Homo sapiens: one gene and its partners. The protein of the gene in region 3 purifies or fractionates together with the protein of the main gene of each other region. This does not show direct contact. Each region holds a gene or a part of one and is shown on either strand. Other genes may lie near its edges.

Region 1 (7,157 bases), on a different chromosome or scaffold from region 3:
TAGCAGCCAAAAAGACTCTCCAGGGCCAGCACAGTAGCAGCCCCATAGAAAGCACGGGGGCAGGGAGGGAAGGCTGAAGGGCTCCAGTGGAGCCCTGGCCTGGAGCCCTGCCCTCGGTGTTCCTGCCACCTCGCCGCTGACATCACGAAGCCGGGTCATCAGAGGCTGGGTGGAACCCAAGCGGAGAGGCCGCCGCCTTTCCCACCAGGTTCATCCTTCCCCTCCTGGGATCAGCAAGATTCTCAGAGAGCATACGGATCGGGGCAGGAGGGACAAAGGGCACCCAAACAAGGAAAGGGCCATGGGTGCGGGGAGGCTACGGGGGCGACTGGGGTGGGAGGAGGGGCGCCTCGCTGCTCCTGAGCTGCCTGGCTAAGCTGGGCTGGTGTGCGGTGCTGAGTGATCTTACCCATGATACAAACCCTTATACCAACCATACACTGAGGTGTTGTAAGGGGAGCGTAAGCATCAGCTGCAAGCCAGCTGCGTGGTGGCTGCAGTGACAATAAGAACAGTCAATTAATACGGCGGCCCCTGGACACGCCGCAGCCCTGCCCACCCTCCCCCACCCATCCCTGCCCATGTGGACGCCGCGGCAGCCTCAAAGGGGGCTTTGGAACTGTAGGGGCAGGCGCTCAACATGCCTATCACCCCACTGCCCGCTGAGGAACAGGGTGGGGGGCCAGGGTTGGGGAAGCGGAGGGTCGGGTGGCCCAGCCCCAGTTCTACTGGGGGGGGAAGAGAGGGCAGGTTCAAAGGCCAGTCCTCATTGCAACCTGGCCACCCCCAACTTCAGTGGGGGGAATGGGGGAGGTTCCCCCAAAATCCGACCCCTCCCCCCACCTCCAGCTGGCCCCAGCCCCCCACCCAGTTCCCTCTTTGCCCCTGAGGTTCAACGTGTGACACTTACCTCCCCAGGTTCACACACACACACACGTTGTGGGGGATTTGGTTTTTGTTTTTTAAAAAACACGTATATAAAAAAAAAAAAGATACATCAGAAACAGAGGGAGGAGGAGAAGAGACATCGCTAATGTCAGGTGTGGCAGGGTGGGGGAGGGGACAGACTGGGAGGGGCTGGGGCAGCAGAGAAGTGAGAGCAGGTCAGAGGGCAGGGCTCGGCGGGAGGTACTCACAGTGCATGTCTCGCTCGTGTTCGTACTCGATGAAGGCATAGCCACGGGGCTTTCCTGACCGCTTACTGTAGACCATGTGTATCTGTGGGGCACATGGGGACAGGGGTGAGTCCTGCCACAGGGCGGCTCCGCCCCACCAACCCCACAACAGCCTGCACACCAGGCCCTGGGCCGGATGAGGCCTCAGACCCTCTCTGTCCTTCAAGAGCCCTGAGTGACTTATGTTCTAATGGCAGGAGCAGAGGACACAGAGGCGGCTTCCTGGAGAAAATGACACTTAAGCTAAGACCTAAAGAAAGAAGAGAGATGAAGGAAGACAGTGAGGTGTCAGCCTGTCAGGTGGAATAGCAGTAACTCCAGAGGTCCAAGGGCCCGGGGGCAGGAGGGCAGGAGGCTGGGGATGCGCTTCGGCAGGGCTGGCTCATGTACTGATGACAGAGAGTCCCAGGAGATGAAGCCACAAAGGTGGGCAGGCCCGGGGTCATCAAGCGCCCCAATGCCAGGCCGAGAAGTGTGGTCGCTGAGGAGCTGGGAAGGGTGTTGAGCAAGGAAGGGCCAATGTGGGTGGTCTACGTGGAGTCAGGAGGACACAAATGGAATTAGGGAAACAGGAGGGAGTTGTGAATGCCAATGGGACGGGAATTCTTTTTTTTTTTTTTTTTTTTGGAGACAGAGTCTTGCTCTGTTGCCCAGGCTAGAGTGCAATGGCTCAATCTCAGCTCACTGCAACCTGCACCTCCCGGGTTCAAGCGATTCTCCTGCCTCAGCCTCCCAAGTAGCTGGGATTACAGGCGTGCGCCACCACACCTGGGTAATTTTTTGTATCTTTAGTAGAGATGGGGTTTCACCATGTTGGCCAGGCTGGTCTTGAAATCCTGACCTCATGATCTGCCCTTCTCGGCCTCCCAAAGTGCTGGGATTACGGGCGTGAGCCACTGTGCCTGGCCAAGGACAGGGAAGTTCTAAGGGAAAAAGAAAGGACACGTGCACAGCCAGGGAGGCTTGAGAGAACGTGGCACGATGAGGGATGCGTCCCATCCCGAGGATGGCAGCAAGAGAAGGGAGGAGATGGGGTGGGGTGGAGGTCCATGAGGCCACACAGCTTGGGGAAGAGCCCTGGAAGGCCAGATGGTGGCAGCTGGACCTGTCCTAACATGCTAGGGACCCATGGGATGCTGTCAGCAGAGATGGGGTCAGCTCTGGATGTCAGAAAGACCCCTTGGGGACCATGTCAGGGAGAACAACGGGCAAGGCAGGGCTGTTGAGACAGAGGTGGCCAGAATGAACCAGGGAAGATTTCTGGGAGGTAACAGCATTTGAGCTGGTCCCTAAAGGATGGCTAGTTCGCCATTCACATCACTACCAGTTGGCGACCAACCTGTATCATGGATGAACCTGGGACCCCACAGCCTCCAAAACACAACCAAGATTCCTGACTTGAATGGATCAGAGGGACAAGGGTGGGGCCAAGGTTGTCACTGGGCTGTGCAAGGCAGAACAACGTGTGTGTGTGTGTGTACACATATATACACATGCACATACACACACACACACAGGCACGAGACACCACACTCGGCTAATCTTTTGTATTTTTGTAGAGACGGGGTTTCGCCATGTTGGCCAGGCTGGTCTTGCCTCCTGACCTCAGGTGATCTGCCTGCCTCGCCCTCCCAACATGTGGGATTACAGGCGTGAGCTACCACGCCCAGCCTACAATACTTTTTTTTTTTTTTAAGATGGAGTCCCACTCTGTTGCCCAGGCTGGAGTACAGTGGTGTGATCTCGGCTCACTGCAACCTCCGCCTCCTGGGTTCAAGCAATTCTCCTGCCTCAGCCTCCTCAGTAGCTGGGATTACGGGCGCCCGCTATCATGCCCAGCTAATTTTTGTATTTTTTTTTTTTTTGTACAGACCAGGTTTCACCATGTTGGTCAGACTGGTCTCGAACTCCTGACCTCAGGTTATCCGCCCACCTCGGCCTCCCAAAGTGCTGGGATTACAGGCGTGAGCCACCGTGCCTGGCCCAACAATACTTTTTTTTTCCTTTGTGTGGAGAACGGGGTCTTGCTATATTGCCCAGGCAGGTCTCGAACTCCTGGGTTTAAGCTATCCTCCCGCCTCTGCCTCCTTAAGAGCTGAGATTACAGGTGTGAGCCATTGCACCCGGCCTGACATGTATAAATATTTTTAAAAGACGTATCAGAAACAGAGCAGGGAGAAGAGACATGGCTAACATCAGTTTGTGTGTAGGATGGCCTCAAGCCCTCACTACTGCCCAGTGAAGGCATGCGTCTCCCATGTTAGATAAAGGAAATCAGACACAGAGCACTTCAGTGACTTAAAAGAAGATTGGTAAAACAAAGCCTTCCTCTAAAACGGGACTCAGCATAGGTATTCTGCCAAGACCCAGAGAGTAGATATTTCCAGCTTGGACGGCCGTATACTGTTGCAACAATCCAACCCTGCCTTACAACAGTAGCAGCCAAAGACAATGTGTAAACAAACAGACCTGCCTGGCTGAGCAGCAGGAAAACTTTAAGTCTGTAGTTTGCCAACCCCTGCTCTCAACCAACCACCAGCAGTCATTACTTCTCATTTTACTTCTGCTGCCCAAGGTCTGCTGCATGGAGATACAGTCAGGATGCATAAATCCAGGCCCTGAAATGGTGTGAGCCATGCTCAGGGCTGGGACCTCTCTCCCTCCCTCTCAGGATACAGCCCCTCCTCCATGCACCCCCAATTCAAACACCCTGACCCACTCCACTTACTCTTTTGATAGGTCCGTACACCTCAAACTCTCTCCGGAGCTTGGATTCTGTTGTGTCATAATTCTACAAGGAGATGGATATGACGTTAAATGGGAGAACAGAGCTGTCCCACAGCCCCTGGAACATTCCCCTGTACCTAGCCTATTTGACCTTTGTGCCAGACCCAGGCTCTCAGCAGCGTGGGGTTCCAGGAGCTAGGAGCTGGGGACTTACCACTCTCGCCACGAAGAGAGTCTTGAAGGCATCCCCCTGAGCATTGGGATCATTGTGAGGGTCCCCTGTGCAGGAAGAAAGGAATTTTATAAGTTGAAGGTGTCCATGGTCTCAGGTAGCAAAACAAATACGATGGGCAGAGGCCAAGAAGAAAACGGTGGCATTGGGAGAGGCCCCTAACTGGAGGAACATGGGTGGTGACCTGGCAACCTCAGGGACGCCCCTCTCTGAACCTGTTTCTCTGAGGCACAGTGGGCTTTATCAGAGTGGCTGAGAGATAATCCAGGCTGCTGAGGAGAGGAGGTAAGGCTGACTTCAAGCTGACAGGATGTGGGCAGGCCCAACTGCCATTTCAGACCTACATAAACCCTAAGGGCCCTATCGCTCCCAGATGCAAGGTGATCCAAACAGTAATAGCCCAACTGGGCCTCCCTGGAGATGCAGCTGATGCCCCCAGGTTCTGAGCTCCCTCCTGTAGGCAGGGCCACACTGCCACCTACTGGACACAGACTGCAACTACAGCCCACAGGAAAACCTGAGACCAAGCTGCCCCAAGGCTAAGAATGAGAGCCAGGAAAGCAAACACTAAGTAAGCTCTGCTTTCCTGTCTGTGCCCTGTGTCTCTAAAAAGGAACCCAGGAACTGACTAGCGTCAGATCAGATTCTCACTCCAGCCTCACTACTGTGAGGCAAACTGTTCTACCTGGCTACTAAGGAATAACAATCTCCAAAGAAAAGAGCCAGGAATCTCCTAAGAAACCAATTTCATAGGTGATCCTGCTGGGTCAGGCCTGGGAATAAGTCCTTTTCACCAAATATGGTGGCTCCAGCACATAATGACCCTGACTCCTGCCGGGGCCTTAAGGACACTCTGCCGGTTCTTCCATGGTATAGTGTTTCCCTCGGAAGCCCTGTCACATTCTGGGAGAGCATGAGAAAAGGAATAACATTAACCCATTTATGCCAGAGGTTGCAATTTTTTGAATTGCAGACACGTGTGAAAAATCAGACCCTGGTGATGACCCGAGCAGTAGGATATAAATAACTCCCACATGCTTAGCGTTCCAATAATGGAACATTAGACATATAATTTACTGAACACGTACTATGGCCCAGACACAGTGCTGGACACTGATATTTATTTATTACTATTTTGCAAATGGAAGTAAAACAGAACAAACTCGAGACACAGAAAAAGGGAGGTGTTAAAGTGGCGAAGGGCCAAGGCAGACTTCACCTCTCACCCCGGGCACTTGAACTACCAGGCTCCTTCCCCGAACCCTCGGGTGCTACCTTTTCAGGAAGACAGTGTGGGTGTTGCCAGAAGCTAGAGAAATAAAGTCTCAGATTTTTTTTTTTTTTAAACAGAGTCTTGCTCTGTTGCCCAGGCTTAAAGTGCAATGGCGCAATCTCGTCTCACTGCAACCTCTGCCTCCGAGGTTCAAGCAATTCTCCTGCCTCAGCTTCTCAAGCAGCTGGGATTACAGGCGTGCACCACCACATCCAGCTAATTTTTGTATTGTTAGTAGAGATGGGGTTTCGCCATGTTGGCCAGGCTGGTCTCGAACTCCTGACCTCAGGTGATCCGCCCTCCTCGGCCTCCCAAAGTGCTGGGATTACAGGCATGAACCACCGCGTCCCGCCAGATTTGTTTCTTATGAGAGAATTTAACTACAAGTATAAACTAAGGTCAAGATGACTTTAAGGAATGTACTTTTTTTGAGATGGAGTGTCACTCTTGTTGCCCAAGGTCAGTGCAATGGATGGCGAGATCTCGGCTTACTGCAACCTCCGCCTCCCGGGTTCAAGCGATTCTCCTGCCTCAGCCTCCCAAGTAGCTGGGATTACAAACACACACCACCACACCCAGCTAATCTTTTGTATTTTTAGTAGAGACGGGGTTTCACTATGTTGGCCAGGCTGGTTTCGAACTCCTGACCTCAGGTGATCTGCCTGCCTCGGCCTCCCAAAGTGCTGGCATTACAGGCGTGAGCCACCGCACCTGGCCTAAGAATATTTTAGAAAACAGAAGCCTAAGCCACAATTTAAGGGAATCGCTATCTGGGACAAATGGAAACGTCTGAAAACAACTCCATCTCAGCGTTCTCTCCACCCACTCCTCAAGTTCCTTGCCAGGCTGGGCACAGTGGCTCACACCTGTAATCCCAGCAATTTGGGAGGCTAAGGCGGACGGATCACCTGAGGTCAGGTGTTTGAGACCAGCCTGGCAAACATGGCGAAACCCCGTCTCTACTAAAAATACAAAATTACCAGGGCATGGTGGTGTGCGCCTATAGTCCCAGCTACTCGGGAGGCTGACGCAGGAGAATTGCTTGAATCTGGGAGGTGGAGATTGCAGTGAGCCGAGATCATACCACTGAACTCCAGCCTCGGCAATAAAGCGAAAAAAAAAACAAAAAACAAAAAACGTTCCTTGCCATACCTTATCCCTGAGCGTTGTAATTTTCTATGGCCAGGTCTCTCAATCTGCACTGGCTTTTTTTTTTTTTTTTTTTGCACCAGCTAACTCTCATTCATTCAATAGGTAATTCTTTTTATTCGCCGATGTTTGTGCTCTTGTAAGTAAGTAATTCTTAAGCATCTACTATGTGCCTGGAAATGCTATAGTTGTTGGGGATTTCGCAGTAAACAAGACAAAAAAAGGTGCTGGGCGCAGTGGCTCACAGCTGTAATGCCAGCACTTTGGGAGGCCAAGGCAGGCGGATCACTTGTGACCAAGAGTTCAAGAAGACCAGCCTGATCAACACAGCGAAACCTCATCCCTACTAAAAATACACAAAAAATTAGCTGGGTGTGGTCCAGCTACTCAGGAGACTAAGACAAGAGAATCGCTTGAACCAGGGAGGCGATGAAGGTTGCAGTAAACCGAGATCGTGCCACTACAGTCTATCCTGTGCAACAGAGTGAGACTGTCTCCAAAAAAAAAAAAAAAAAGGTGTCTACCCTCATGGGGTTCATATGCTAATGAAAGAGGTAAATAAGGAGATCCTATGATCACATCAGATGACGACAGAGAATAG
Region 2 (7,932 bases), on a different chromosome or scaffold from region 3:
GAACCTACTCTGTGCTAGGCAACATACTAGTTGCCGGGGAATCAACAGTTAACAGTACAAAGTCTTTGCCCTCATGGTACTTTCATTCTTGGATAAGAATATATACAGTAAACAAAAATAAGTAATGACAGGTAATAAAAAGTATCATAAAAAAATCAAACAAGGAAAAAAGGAGTCATTTTAAATGAGGTGATCATGAAACCTCCTCAAAGGAGGTACTTTGAGCAGAGACCTACGTGAATGGCATAGAGTAGAGCTGGCTATATGACCCCTGGGGAAGCGTTTTCACCAAGAGGAAACAGCAAATGGAAAGGCCATAAGATGGCAGTGTTCTTGGTGTATTTGAGGAAGAAAAAGAAGGCCCACATGACAGAATTCAGGGGAAAGTAAAGGAGGTCAGAGATCTACCTCCAGGGACTAGATCACAAAAGACCTTGAGAGTCATGGTAAAAACTTTGCAATGTAACTACTGGAGGAGGAGAAAACAAAACTTTGTGCTCTTAACTACAAGAAAAAAAAATTGATTTAAAAAAAAAAAAAAAAAAAGGACTAGGAGAAAACATGCCAAAACTGTTAATAGCAGTTTCTCTCTAGGTAGTAAGATTACAGATTTTGTTTTCTGGTACGTCCTAATTTTTCTGAATTTTCCCTATTTCTAAAAATGAATATGTATTACTTTGATACACACACAGAGAATAATGTAATTTTCATAATCCAAAGATCTGAAATTAAAAATATGAATTTGCCGGGCATGGTGGCTCACACTTGTGATCCCAGCATGTTGGGAGGCTGAGGCAGGTGGATTACCTGAGGTCAGGAGTTTGAGACCAGCCTGGCCGACATGGCGAAACACCGTCTCTACTAAAAATACAAAAAAATTAGCCGGGCGTGTGGTGTGCACACTTGTAATCCCAGCTACTCGGGAGGCTGAGGCAGGAGAATCACTTGAACCTGGGAGGCAGAGGTTGCAGTGAGCCAAGATTGTGCCACTGACTCCAGCCTGGGCAACAGAGTGAGACTCGGTCTCAAAAAAAAATGAGTTGATGAAACTTTTCCAGGATTTCAGCATTTTATCTGCTGCCAAATTGTCAGAAGCCAAAATCTCAAATACATCTTAGTCTACAATTAGACTAACTCAGGTTCTTGGGAAGTAGGAGGATTTCCAATGTGCAACATCACCTAGGATTTGGTAGACATAAGATGGACTCAAAAAGCTTCCCAGGTGATGAACATGGATATCTGGGTTAAAAACCACTGTTGAAGATTCATCATCAGATATACCAATGCCTGAGAACTTGAAATACAGTCTGCCATAACAACTAAACTACCAAGTAAGGCTATGAGAATCACATCTAATTCATCTTTGAATCCCCAATGCCTGGCACACTGTTTATACGTAATACGGACTCAACAAACCTTTGTTGGAGAAATGATCCCCAAACTCAAATTTCCTGCTAATTTGGGTAAGGCAATCTTAGAAACACTCTAAGACAACCTGGAAGATGGGAGATCAATATGATACATTTACAGAGCTTTAAGAACCACCTGCATACCGGCTGTGGTGGCTCATGCCTGTAATCCCAGTACTTTGGGAGGCAAAGGTGGGAGGATTGCTTGAACCCAGGAGTTCAAGGCTGGTCTGTGCAACACTGGAGACCCCATCTCTACAAAAAATACAAGAACTAGCCAGGTGTGGTGGCACACACCTGTAGTCCCAAATACTTAGGAAGATGGGTGGGAGGATCACTGGAGCCCAGAAGTTCAAGGTTGCAGTGAGCAATGATCCGCCACTGCACTCCAGCCTAGGTGACAAAGCGACACCGTCTCAAAAAAAAAAAACAAACTCTGCAGTTACCAACAATAGCCAGAGCACTACATTACCATGAATCAAGTCAAATGTTAAGTCTCACATTAATCTAGTCAGTAAGTAAAAGAAGAATCCCTGTCTGTATTACCAAGTAGTGACAAAATTGACATATATGGTAGCTTTATTCTATTTAAATAAGGTACGCATAGAAAATTCCAAATTTCGCCACCACCACCACTTAACTCAATCATTCATCAAATTCACTTCCAGCTCTGAGGAGCTACTGGTATTTCATCTGACCTGTGGTAAAGTCCACAAAACACATCCTCCTCTGGTCCTCTCAGCTAACTCACCTGGGTACTTAAGTTTTCAAGAACAAGAGAGTCCAAAGCTATGGTGGAGAACACACAGGTTTTCCCGGTGCCAGATTTAGCTTGAACAATTAAATCTGCGAAGGAAAAAAACAATTATCACTAGCCAGTACTCACTGAAGCAACTTAGGGGCTAACATGGAATCAGAGAACTAGAAGGGTCTCCTGAGATTCCCCTAGTTGGCACCTTCATTTTTAGTTGATTCTCAAAAACGTATGAGAACACGCCTAGTCCCTGAACGTTTACCGTTTATCTTCTCAAACTTAGAACCATTTGTCAGTGCTTAAAAAAAGGTCTTAACTATCCTCAAGTTCAATAGTGCACGTTAGTTTTACAAATAAGTTAACTGAGCGTAGCGCCTAGCCCCCGGCAGGGCCCTGCTCCGGGGGCCGACCGAGGGCTCTTCCTGAGCTGCGGCGCGGGCCTGGCCGCCGCCGCCCGTCGGTCCCCCTTCTCCCACCCCACCCCCCGACCTATCCCGGGCCCCCGCTCTCACCGAGCCCGCAGCGCCCCAACGGGATGGCCTTGAGCTGCACCGGCGAGGGCCTCTCGAAGCCGGCCGCCCGCAGCCCCTCCAGCACCGGCCGCGAAAGCAGCAGTGACTCGAAGTCGGCCGGCTCCGCCAACAGCACATCCCCCGTGCGGGTCCGCGGGCTGCTGAGATCCTGAGCGGTCCGCAGGATCCTCACAGGCCCGGGTGTTGGCTCTGGGGCCGGGACCTGCACGGCCACATGCTCAGCCGGCATAGCAGTCGCCACTGCTGCTAAGGCTCCCGAGGCTTCAAATGCCGCCGCCATGGTAGCCGCGCCGTCAGATCTCGCGGTGCTTAAGGGGAGGCGGGGATCTTGGGAGCGAGAAGAAGAAAAACTTTATTGGCAGTTTTCCCGCGAAGACACTAACACGCCCGGCCTGGAAGTGGAAGAAAGGGACGGGAGTCGGAGGCTGAGAGACTGCCCAGACACACAAAAAATGTGGCCTGAGGAAAGCCCCAAGAGGGAGGAGAGGAAAGATGAGGCAACTGGTGAGTCGCTGCCTGTGGCCTGCAGAGGGCGCCGCGGGCCTGCGGTGGGGGCACCGCCCCGCCTCTCGGCCCTCTTCTGGGCGGAGCCGCCCAGCCGTGCCCCCGGCGCCACCGCCCTCTCGCCGTTCTTTGTGATGCGCCCGGTGCGTCACGCCCCCGTCTCGTGCTTCCGTTTTCCGTTCCGCTGGCCTGTCTCGCTTCGCGGCCACCTCTTCCCCAACGCTACCCGCTCCGTACCCTGACTCGCTGCTCCTCTGTGCTGGCAGAGAGCGCGCAGAACGTAGCTGGACCCAAGGGTTTATTTACCACATTGGCTGGTGTGTCCATCTGCTGTGCAACCACATTTATCTCCGGTGAGATAAACCCCATTTATCTCCTAGCAAGTCCCTGGCGCACAGTGAGCTCTGATAAAAGTACGTTGAATTGGAACCTGGAACTGGACTAACAGCTCCCAAGTTCGTATCTCCGCCTCAGATCTCCTTTTAAACTCTAGACGTGTGCATCCATCTGCCTCCATGCATCCGCCTCCATGCATCCGCCTCCGCATCCGCCTCCATGCATCCGCCTCCGCAGCACCTCCCTTGGGATGCCTAATAGACTCTCAAATGTTACATGCCTTCTGTATTGCTCCTTCCCCCATCATTTCATGCGTAGGCAGCTAGCAGTCTCTGCCACTTTTCCTTGCTGTGGTCTTCTGCTCAAATATCAGCTTTTCAAAGAGGTCTTGAACACCCTAAGACAGCTCTGTCATCCTCTCTGCTCCCTGGCCTTTCCCAGCACTCTCTTGTTTTGCTTTATTTTTTCTTTATGATACTTATACCTACCTGAAATTATATGTCTTCTGCCTGTCTCCCACACTCTATGAGGACAAGAACCTATTCTGTCTTGTTCTCCTCTGCATCCCTAGTGGGAAAAACAATCTGACACATAGGAAATGTTCAATATTTATCAAATGATTGAGCTCCTATAACAAACTCTTAGTCATCATGCCAAATTTAAATATTTCTGGACCTCAGCCATATTCATAATTCCAAATTTAGTTGTGTGGGGTGGCTCGCACCTGTGATTCCAGCTTCTTGGGAGGCTGAGGCGGGAGGATTGCTTGAGGCCAGGAGTTGCCAGCCTGGGCAACATGCAGAAACCCTGTCTCAAATTCTTAAAAAGTAAACAAATTTTTAAAAATACAAAGAATACCAAACTTAAATATATTCTGCAACCAAGCCCAACTTTGTCCATAGATTATAATGCTGGTCATTGTCCCTACCCCCTTGACACACACACAGTGATGGTCTAGATTCCATATGATATAGGAGGGGCTTTGACATGGTAATCCCATTGGAAGGTGGTCCTGAAGGTTTATTTTGCCTGGAAATGTACAAAACATTGAGAAAATGTCAACTATCCGTTTGAAGGAATGGAGACTGATGGTGGAGATGGCACTAAAGGTCCCAGCCTTCCTCTTAGTGCCCTCACCTCTTTTATCTGCCTAATCCCCAGACCACAAACCTGGGAATTATTCTTGACTCCTTTGCCACTTTCTAACAATTTACCAAGCACAAGTAATTTTGCCTCCAAATATTTCACCCATTCTTCTTCAGTCTCCGTAGAATCTGCCCTATATTTTAGATCCCTTTATCATCCTAACTCGCAAAAACCTCCTGAATGGTTTCTCTGGCCAGAGTTTCTTCTCTATCCCAGCCATGTACCCCACAGGTGCTGGAGTGATCTTTCTTAAGTGGATATCTTAAGCTGTTTGGGTCCAGCTCCAGATCCTGCTCCTTTTGATCCTGCTCCTTTTGATACCCTTTTTTATTCCCCACCCCAGGGTCCCACATCACACTATAAATAATTCCAGTCTGGCTCTTATGTTGTATTTGCTTGGTTACTTGTATGTGCCTCACATTAAATAAACTGTGAGCTTCTCAAGGACAGTAATTTTGTCATCCTAGGCCCTCCAGGCCAGCACCAAGCACCTGGTAGACCCAATAAACATTGAATGGCTGACACCTTCTTGCTCAAAAATCTCTTCTGGGTCTCCATGCACATAGCAGCGGTTCTGTAGAACTCACACCAATCACTGCTGAAGAACCACAGGATTATCCCAAGAAAAGCAAAAAGACTACATTTCCAGAAAACATTTATAGTTTTATAGGCATTCTGTTACTGCATTTGTTGTTTTTGATGTTTTACAGACACAAATATTGCAGTAATGTTATTGGGAACCATGGTGAATAACACAAATTTTTTTTCTCACTAGTCAAAAGTTATAACAGTGTTGTTGACCATAATTTTTAGTGCTATAAAGATCTCTTGCACAAAAGCAAGAAATCATTTAATAACTAGGTAAGGTGTGAGCATAACACATACAGAAATGGGCTTGATTGTGTCTGTCTCCCAGCCTCCCCCGGGATAAATAACAGTGGGATCCCTGTCTCTTCTCTGGCAGAGCAGCCCATCTACCTCCTCCAACCAGACCCAACTAGCCCAGATGCTTAATTCTCCATGACTTGTAACACCTCAATACCTTTGTATTTGCTGTTCCATCTACCTGGAGAGCCTTTCCAGGGAGCTAGAGGAGGGAGAGATTCCTATGAACTGAAAAGGTGAGAGTGACACTTAGACTCAGAATGGGTGTTAAGATTCAAATGATCTCATCCAATCATTTTGCACTGGAGGCTTCTGAACCCAGAGGAAAAGAAAACAGGCCAGGCGCGGTGGCTCACGCCTGTGATCCCAGCACTTTGGGAGGCCGAGGTGGGCGGATCACAAGGTCAGGAGATCAAGACCATCCTGGCTAACATGGTGAAACCCTGTCTCTACTAGAAAAAAAATACAAAAAGTTAGCCGGGCGTGGTGGTGGGCACCTGTAGTCCCAGCTACTCGGTAGGCTGAGGTAGGAGAATGGCGTGAACCCGGGAAGCAGAGCTTGCAGTGAGCCGAGATCACACCACTGCACTCTAGCCTGGGCAACAGAGCGAGACTCCGTCTCAAAAGAAAAAAAAAAAAGAAAAAGAAAACAGTATAAAGGAAGGCATACTGTAAGGTGGCCCACCCTGGGTGTGAGGATCGGTGGGGGAATGTGGAAAGAAGGGAAGAAAACTTAAGATTTTAAAGCCACTTTTTCTCATTTGACCCTCAAAGCAACACAAGGTAGGCAATATTATTATTTGCATTCAATCTACAAAACATCTCTAATCATTCAACAAAAATTTTCTGAACACCTAGTATAAACCAGCCAAGTGCTAGAGATACAAAAATGGAACAAAGTAAACAGAGCCTCTGCACTTGGGGAGACAGATGCACACAAACAGGTATCCTCATTTCCTGTATAAAGTGCAGGGTGCTACTGAAGTCAAGGAGGTAACCAGATGTGGGGAGCCAAGAAAGACTTAGCCATCAAGATTAGGTTTGATTGAAAGTAAGGCCCCAAAATAGGAGCTTACCTCCCCAAGATAGAAGTTCATTTTGCCCTTGTAGAGAATTCTGGAAGCAGGACTGATAAACAGCCCTGATCCACAAAGATCCCAATCACCCAGGCTTCTGCCTTGGTCCCCAAACAGTTGCTGTAGTTCCAGTCATCACGTTTGCATTGCAGCCAGCAGGAAGGAGGAAGACTCAAAATAGAAAGTAGAAATGGTAATGGTCATCATGCCAGCAGTCCTTTTAAGAAATGTTCTCAAAAGCTGCCACACTATCTGGCATTTCTTGGAAAGAACTTAGCCATAAAGTTATACCTTCTTGCAAAAAAAAAAAAAAAATCTGGGAAATGTCATTTTTCTGGACAATCACGTGCCCAGCTGTACACTGATTTGAGAGGAGGTCCATTACTATAGAGGAAGGGGGAAAGGACATTGGAGGCAACTAACAGTCTCTGCCACATCTTCCTAGCATTAGTGAGAGCTACAGTAAGTCTGAAAAATGAATCAAAGTTGGCCTTGTGACAGAGGAGGGGAAAACGGAGGTCTGGAGGTGAGGACCACCATAGCACATTCTAAAAGAGCTTAGAATGCAAATGGGACAGTAAGCTTTGATGAGCAGGAGAGTGAAGTGTAGGCCAGGTTGGTGTCTGGACTTTATCCTAAAAGCCTTCTACATGTCAGATGCCGAAGGAGATGCTGCCCTCAAGTAACTCCTCAGAAGAAGATTAGTAATCTGCTCAAAGTCACAGAGCTCATAATTGGGATTGGAACTCAGATCTATTTGACAGCAAAGTCTAGGCTCTTTCTATCCTCTGTCCTAAAAGAGTTGACAGCCCAGCTGGGGAAATGATCAAGCATGAAATATGCAAGTAGCACAAGCTGGTGTAAAATCATATGCAGTACTGACATTTTTTCAGGGCCTTAGTTGTTCAAAGTGTGGCTGTCGTGGGAGAGAGTGAGAACTTCTGAGAAACTGAGGAAAACAGCTTTTGGTATTCAAAGAGCAATAGCTTTCTTCTCTATGTCCTTCTCCTCCACACCCCAAATCAAAGTTGCTTCAAGTATGTATGGAAGTATGAGAGAACAACTGCACATACAAGATCATTGTTTACCTAATTCCTGGAGTCCAGCACTTCTGCCAAGACAGCAGCACCAGGAGACAAAGCTCAAGTCCTGTGAAGCAGTGGGGGCTGATACCCTGAGCTTATCCTGAATAAGGCGTTCATCAGGCAGTGGGAGTGGAAAGAGAGCTCACCAGGCAGACAAGTCTCAGAAAGATATTCTAGGCACAGAGAACAGTTTGTGTAGAGGCG
Region 3 (7,157 bases):
TGATTGGAGTGGATTTGAAAGACTGGGGGCTAAGGCAATAGAGATACACAAAGAGACAACAACTCTTTCACAAAGTTTGTTGTAAAAATGTGCATATACATGAAGCCAGAGGGGATAGATGGGGTCAAGGGAGTATTAAATGGAAAATACCAGGGACCTGTTTTTATGCTGATGAAAGTAAGGCTTGAAAAGAGGAAGAGCTTGTTGCAGGAGTAAACTATGATAAATGCAGGGGTATTGCTGAAAAGTCAAGAGGGGATTGGATTCAGATGACAAGAAGAAAGAACAGCTGGGAATATAGAAATAGGTGCAGGTAGATTTGTAGATGTGCTTGGAAGAAAAAGGTGTTCTATTCTGGTATTTCTGATTTTCTCATTGAGGCATAAGTCAGAGTGGTAGAGTCAAGTTCATCATGGGGTTGAAACTGGATATGCAAAGAAGGTATGAAAATGGTCAAAGAGAATAGGAAAACGAATGTACTAAGGAAAATTATAGGCCCAGTGTTCACTGTTGAGTGGCAAACAAAGAATCGTGGCCATAAATTTAAAGTAAACCCAAACTGTTTGAGAAAGGAGATGGTTGGATTCAGCCAGGTTTGGGGCTTTGTGGAGTAAGTACTCTTGAGGGAGAGGGAGAAGGAGACGGGGCGTACGGGTATTTTTAAAAGTTGATGATAAGGCTGGGCGCAGTGGCTCACACCTGTAATCCCAACACTTTGGGAGGCCGAGGCGGGTGGATCACCTGAGGTCAGGAGTTCAAGACCAGCCCGGCCAACATGGTGAAGCCCCATCTCTACTAAAAATAAAAAATCAGGCCAGGTGCAGTGGTGCACGCCTGTAATCCCAGCACTTTGAGAGGCCGAGGTGGGCAAATCACCTGTGGTTGGGAGTTCAAGACCAGCATGGAGAAACCCCGTCTCTATTAAAAACACAAAATTAGCCAGGCATGGTGGCGCATGCCTGTAATCCCAGCTACTAGGGAGGCTGAGGCAGGAGGATCACTTGAACCCAGGAGGTAGAGGTTGTGGTGAGCCAGGATTGAGCCATTGCACCCCAGCCTGGGCAACAAGAGCGAAACTCTGTCTCAAAAAAACAAACAAACAAAAATTAGCCAGACTTGGTGGCGCACACCTGTAAGCCCAGCTACTCAGGAGGGTGAGGCAGGAGAATCGCTTGAACCTGGGCAGTGGAGGTTGCAGTGAGATGAGATTGCACCACTGCACTCCAGCCTGAGCGACAGAGCAAGACTCTATCTCAAAAAAAAAAGTCAATGATAGTGATGGATCATGAAATCTGTGCTGCATTGGGTAGGGGGATGTATGGAAAGACAGGTGTGGGTGAGTGATAGTGAAAATGGAAGGGGACTGGATCGGCAGTCTCTTGAAGTGGGAGCAGTGTTGTAGTAGGGTTGATAGAGAGGATGAACAGAAAGGTGGTAGGCAGGAGTCAGGGGAGGATCTTCAGAATAGTATTATTCCCAGAAAGCTTGATTCAGATTTCTAAATAGCTTGATCTGTTGGTGATTAGGTTGCATAACTTGGCAGTTTTCAAAGTCCGGGTCTTCAAAGGTTGACATACTCTAGTGTTTCTTTTAAAAAAAAAAAATAAATAAAGCTGTGCTGGTGTTCTTCCCTGTCGAATGCTGTAATGTGTAGGAAGTGTGAATAGGTACAGCCACTTTGTATAATGCAGTTTTGTACTTTCTAATAAAAATGCATATATCTTAACATCCTGGCAGTTCCATTACTAGTCATCAAACCTGAAATTGTCTTAGATGTGTACATGAACATTAATAGCATTTTTTTGTTGTAAAAAAGTGGAAGCCCTTCAAAAGGAAAATGAATAAACTTTGAAATATTCACACAGTGCAGTACTAATACAATAGTGTAATGACTGGCCAGGAACTAGAGTTACGTGTATCAACATGGATGAATTACAAACAGAATGAGTGAAAAAAACAAGCTGCAGGAAAATAGATGATAGCATTTATGTGCAGTTTTAAAATATGCAAAATCTATATCTTATTTAGGAATATATACAAAGAAAGGCTAGGAATGATATAACACAATTCACAAATAGAGTTTGACCTCTGGGTAGAGGAAGAAAAGGAGAAGAGATCTGGCAAGGAGAGAGGTTTGATTGAAGTGGAATGTACAGAGGACTTCAGCTCTATTGGTAATTATTTTTCTTAGGCAGGGTAGTAGATTACTTTTTTTATGTATCTGAAGTCATTCATTTTTAAAAAGCTATTAGAATTTCTCAGTTTCTTTTGAATTCATAAAATGACAGCCTTGGAATATGCAGGTCTAGAGTGTAGAATTCTGCAACTTTTGTTAAGTTCACAGTTTAAAAAGTAGTATCACTTATAAAGAAAGAGATTATTTTCCAGTGCACTAGGACAAAATTATCTCTAGTTAGAAGAGTTGGCCGGGTGTGGTGGCTGATGCCTATAATCCCATCACTTTAGGAGGCCAACGCAGGTAGATTGCTTGAGCCCAGGAGTTTGAGACCAGCCATGAGCAACATGGTGAAACCTCATCTCTACAAAAAAATACAAAAATTAGCTGGGCATGGCATGTACCTTTAGTCCCAGCTACTCAGTCCCAGGCTGAGGTGGGAGGATTGCTTGAGCCTGGGAAGTCAAGGCTGCAGTAAGTGGTGATTGTGCCACTGCACTCCAGCCTGGGCAACAGAGAAGGAAAAAAGAAGAGTTGCTGCACCCTTGCAAAAACTATGAAAATTCCCTTAGAACAAAATCATGGTCCACTGTGAGTTTTGTACCAGGCAACATACATAGTATTACCTAGTGCCAAGAGTTTGATCATAGAGAGAAGGGTTTTAACAAAACCAGGAGGCATAAGGTGAGCACTTTAAAAAAAGGAAAAAGCAAAATTATTTTTTGTCCTCTTCCCTCCTCCGCCACCCCAAATGCACCTAACTTTAAGGAATGCGCCAATGGTAACTCCAAGCCAAAATGTTTACTAGAGACTCTGTTCTGTCTTCATTTTTTTAGTAATATTTCTAACTCTTGTTTTTTAGCTACAAGGATGGCATAGTGGTGATAATTGACATCAGTAAGAAAGGAGAAGTTATTCATAGGCTTCGAGGCCATGATGATGAAATCCACTCCATAGCCTGGTGTCCCCTGCCTGGTGAAGATTGTTTATCTATAAACCAAGAGGAAACTTCAGGTAGAGATGGTTTAAGGGAAAGTTAAGTCCACTTGAGACCTGAAGAACAGAACGGGTACAATTATATCATTTTTTATTTATTATTTATTTTTGGAGACGGAGTTTTGCTTTTGTTGCCTAGGCTGGAGCGTGATCTCGGCTCACCGCAACCTCCGCCTCCCGGGTTCAAGCGATTCTCCTGCCTCAGCCTCCCGAGTAGCCGGGATTACAGGCATGCGCCACCACGCCCAGCTAATTTTGTATTTTTAGTAGAGACAGGTTTCTCCATGTTGGTCAGGCTGGTCTTGAACTCCCGACCTCAGGTGATCCACCTGCCTCAGCCTCCCAAAATGCTGGGATTACAGGCGTGAGCCACTGCACCAGGCCGAATTATATCATTTTAATTATACCTAAAACTTCAAATTTTATAGTTCAGACCTATGAAAGAGATAGCTAAGTTTTGGAAACTCTTGCAAACTAATTTTTTTATATTAGTGCGTGTTTAATGTAAATTAAAAACAAAATTGCCACCTATCTCATAGAAGAAGCTGAAATTACCAACGGGAATGCTGTAGCACAAGCTCCAGTAACAAAAGGTTGCTACTTAGCCACTGGAAGCAAAGATCAAACCATTCGAATCTGGAGCTGTTCTAGAGGCCGAGGTAAGATTGATCTTTCTTTTGTGATGTAACCTATGTTGATCTGGTGGAAGTAGAGGGTTTTCTGTTCTTATTGTCCTGAGGGTGTGTCATCTATTTGAGAGCAGTTCTTCACTTTTTGGTCTAGAATTCTGCTTCCTCATTTGAGCCTGGCCTAGACTCTCTATTCTCTCAACATCTGGCCTTAGAGATTAGTATTTCCCATGCATTCCAGGAGAAGACAAGGATCTCTTGCTTTATAGAAGGGTCAGTGTTTGGCATGGAGAGCAGAATATTTGTAATAAAAACAGGAATATTAGAACATGATATGGCCTAAGCCAGGAGAATGGAAAATATCTTAAGAGTTAGAGCTTTTAATGCACAAATGCAGAATAAATTACATACACCCAGCATAGAATTATGTGTAAAAGCTCATTTTATCCAAATTATAGAGCCCCTCAATCATTTAGCTTTCCCAAATGTCTCTTTGAACAGAACTTTTATCTTTAAGTTTAAAAATTGAGAGAAACTCTAGGCATAATGAATATTTATAGTATATCATAGAATATAACCTTTATAGTAAAAATCTTGTTTTTCTCTTTCTAGCGGGCTTCTCTTCTTTCTTCATTTTATTTTATTTTTTTTGGCAGTTTTTTAAGCTGTGGTGGAAAATATAACATTTGCCATCTTTATCACTTTTAAGTGTACATTTAAGTGGTATGAAGTACACTCTAAAGTTGTGCAACTGTCACAGCCACCCATCTCCAGAATTCTACTCTCCATTTCCCCCTCCCCCAGGCCCTGGCAACCATCATTCTGCTTTCAGCTCTATGATTTTGACTACTCTGAGTATTTCCTTTGAGTGAAGTTATACATATGATATGTCTTTTTGTGATTGGCTTATTTCACTTAGCATATATCCCCGAGGTTCATTGATGTTGGTACCGTATGTCAGCATATCCTTCCTTTCTAAGGCTGAATAATATTCCATTGTGTGTATGTCCCACATTTTACTTACCCACTCATCCACTTGTTATAAATAAAATTTCGGTGTGGCAAAAGAAATAGCACTCAAATATAAAACTTTCTTTTTAATTCTCAGCAAGGCAATGTACTTCTATAGAAGGGTGCGCCCTTACAGATGGAGCAATGGTGAGCGCACACTTGGACAACGGAGGGGAGGGGTTCTTATCCCTGACGCATGTGGCCCCTGCTGCTGTGTCGTTCCCCTATCAGCTAGGGTTAGACCGCACAGGCTAAACTAATTCTGATTCGCTGATTTAAAGAGAGTGCCGGGGTAAGTGGTTTGATGGGAGAAAATGGTTATGGCAGGAAAAATGGTTATGGCAGAGCAGGAAATCAGAATGAGTCAGGGTGGAGCAGGTAATCGGAATGAGTCAGGATGGAGCAGGTAATCGAAAAAGGTTGCTTTTACGAGGAAGTTAAGTTTAAAAACAGAAGCCAAATAATTGAACATACTGACATATTGATTCTTTGAAGAGAAATTTAGAACTCATATCTCACACACTGATGGACATTTGGGTTGCTTCCATGTTTTACTATTCTAAATAATATGCTATGAGCATGGATGTACTTTCTACTTTATTTGAAACCATGATAGTTTTATCATATTTGCCCAAATGCATGTAAAGCAAGTAGCACAGCACTTGGAATGTCATCCAGGCTTCATCAGTGGTAGGTAACTAATAGTATAATTTGGGAAGACAGAACTTTTTTAAGGTTTACAGGCTACTTCTTGGCATACTGCAGCTAAAACTCCAAGTGGGAACATAAGGCTGAGGATCCCTCCAGGAGGGTAACCTCTAGACTTAGAGGTGTCTGGTAAAATGGCCTTCAATTGTGGTTGTGCAGCAGAATCAGCTGGAGAGTCTTTGGAAAAATGTAGGTTCTTGTACCCCACCTCAGATCTACTGAGTCCGAATCTCTAGGAGTTAGGCCCTGGCGTATGTATTTTTTAAAGTTCCACCTGTGGTTCCGATGCACAATACAGCTTAAAAAACGGTGATTAGAAGCATGTCGGGTGGAGGTACTCCCCACCCACAGCACGTTCACTGCCAAATTTTTCTTTGTTGGATTTCTTGCCGACTAGAAATAGTAATCCCAACCTCTGTCCTTTTCACTTTGGAGTTATGTCACTGCAATACTTTTGGGTACACAACTCAGCTGTGTTACTAGCTGGGTTCTCAGTTTTACTTGGGAACTCATTTTCCCAGACGAAAAAATACTCTTTTTCTTTTGAGGCAGAGTCTCTCTCTGTCGCCCAGGCTGGAGTGCAGTGGCACGATCTCAGCTCACTGCAAGCTCCACCTCCTGGGTTCATGCCATTCTCCTGCCTCAGCCTCCCGAGTAGCTGGGACTACAGGTGCCTGCCACCACGCCCGGCTAATTTTTTTGTATTTTTAGTAGAGACAGGGTTTCACCATGTTAGCCAGGATGGTCTCGATCTCCTGACCTCGTGATCCTCCCGCCTCGGCCTCTCAAAGTGCTGGGATTACAGGCATGAGCCACCGCGCCCGGCCAAAAAAAAAAAATACTCTTAATACGTTGAGGTTGTCAAGATAGCCTGTCGAAGCTTGTTTGACCTAAATGTAGCTAGACTAGTATTAACCAGTATTTATAGTGATTAAAATTATAACCATAATAATGGTTAAAATTGTAACCATTGGAAAATGAGATCTGAATTCTAAGTAGCCAAACTAACAAGCTTTTACAGCGCAGACTGTGTGTTATGAACCACCGGTGACTTCATGCATGTAGTTTCACTGTCTTGAGTGCCCACTGGCCTTCTTTTTAATCTGCAGGGGTGATGATTTTGAAATTGCCCTTTCTGAAGAGAAGAGGAGGGGGTATAGACCCAACTGTTAAAGAGCGCCTTTGGTTGACACTCCATTGGCCCAGCAATCAACCAACACAGCTGGTATCTAGCTGTTTTGGGTAAGTCTTTTTTGGTCATGCTTTCTCAGATATATTTTGTTTTTCTATTTGGCCTCAAGTCCTCCTAGGATGGAGAAAGTAATGGCCAAGGCTTGTATTATGATGGGCCATTTGAAATGGAAAAATTATGAGACTAATGCCTGTGCTATCTACTAACAGAGCTGTAAAAAGATCACATAAGTATAGTCCGGCAGTTAGGAATATGGACTCTGAAGTCAGAACTAAATTTCAGAATCACTTTGTCACTTACTGCCTTGTATTCCTGAGCAAGACCCTTTACTTTTCTGAGCTTCAGTCACTTCAAGTGTAGAAAGGGGAGATGGTTATAATATTTTCTCTTAGGTTGGATGGCTATGCCCATTCAGTAAACAAAGTTCATTGACTACCTACTTCTA

What was found.
Region 1: the proteins of GEMIN5 (region 3) and SNRNP70 purify together in Homo sapiens (affinity purification with mass spectrometry; 5 studies listed by BioGRID and IntAct, with this or other methods). This does not show direct contact.
Region 2: the proteins of GEMIN5 (region 3) and DDX20 purify together in Homo sapiens (affinity purification with western blotting; 7 studies listed by BioGRID and IntAct, with this or other methods). This does not show direct contact.

Annotation. Positions count from the first base shown.
Region 1 is NC_000019.10:49,095,451-49,102,607, reverse strand, and holds part of SNRNP70 (U1 small nuclear ribonucleoprotein 70 kDa), read right to left. Parts: intron 4,182-7,157; coding exon 4,117-4,181; intron 3,967-4,116; coding exon 3,904-3,966; intron 3,775-3,903; exon of another isoform or gene 3,762-3,774; coding exon of another isoform or gene 3,645-3,761; intron 1,219-3,644; coding exon 1,137-1,218; intron 450-1,136; exon of another isoform or gene 435-449; intron 1-434. UniProt on the Homo sapiens protein: Component of the spliceosomal U1 snRNP, which is essential for recognition of the pre-mRNA 5' splice-site and the subsequent assembly of the spliceosome. SNRNP70 binds to the loop I region of U1-snRNA.
Region 2 is NC_000001.11:111,750,969-111,758,900, reverse strand, and holds the start of DDX20 (probable ATP-dependent RNA helicase DDX20), read right to left. Parts: upstream 3,001-7,932; 5' UTR 2,977-3,000; coding exon 2,676-2,976; intron 2,256-2,675; coding exon 2,161-2,255; intron 1-2,160.
Region 3 is NC_000005.10:154,928,132-154,935,288, reverse strand, and holds part of GEMIN5 (gem-associated protein 5), read left to right. Parts: intron 1-3,038; coding exon 3,039-3,190; intron 3,191-3,711; coding exon 3,712-3,831; intron 3,832-6,629; coding exon 6,630-6,762; intron 6,763-7,157. UniProt on the Homo sapiens protein: The SMN complex catalyzes the assembly of small nuclear ribonucleoproteins (snRNPs), the building blocks of the spliceosome, and thereby plays an important role in the splicing of cellular pre-mRNAs.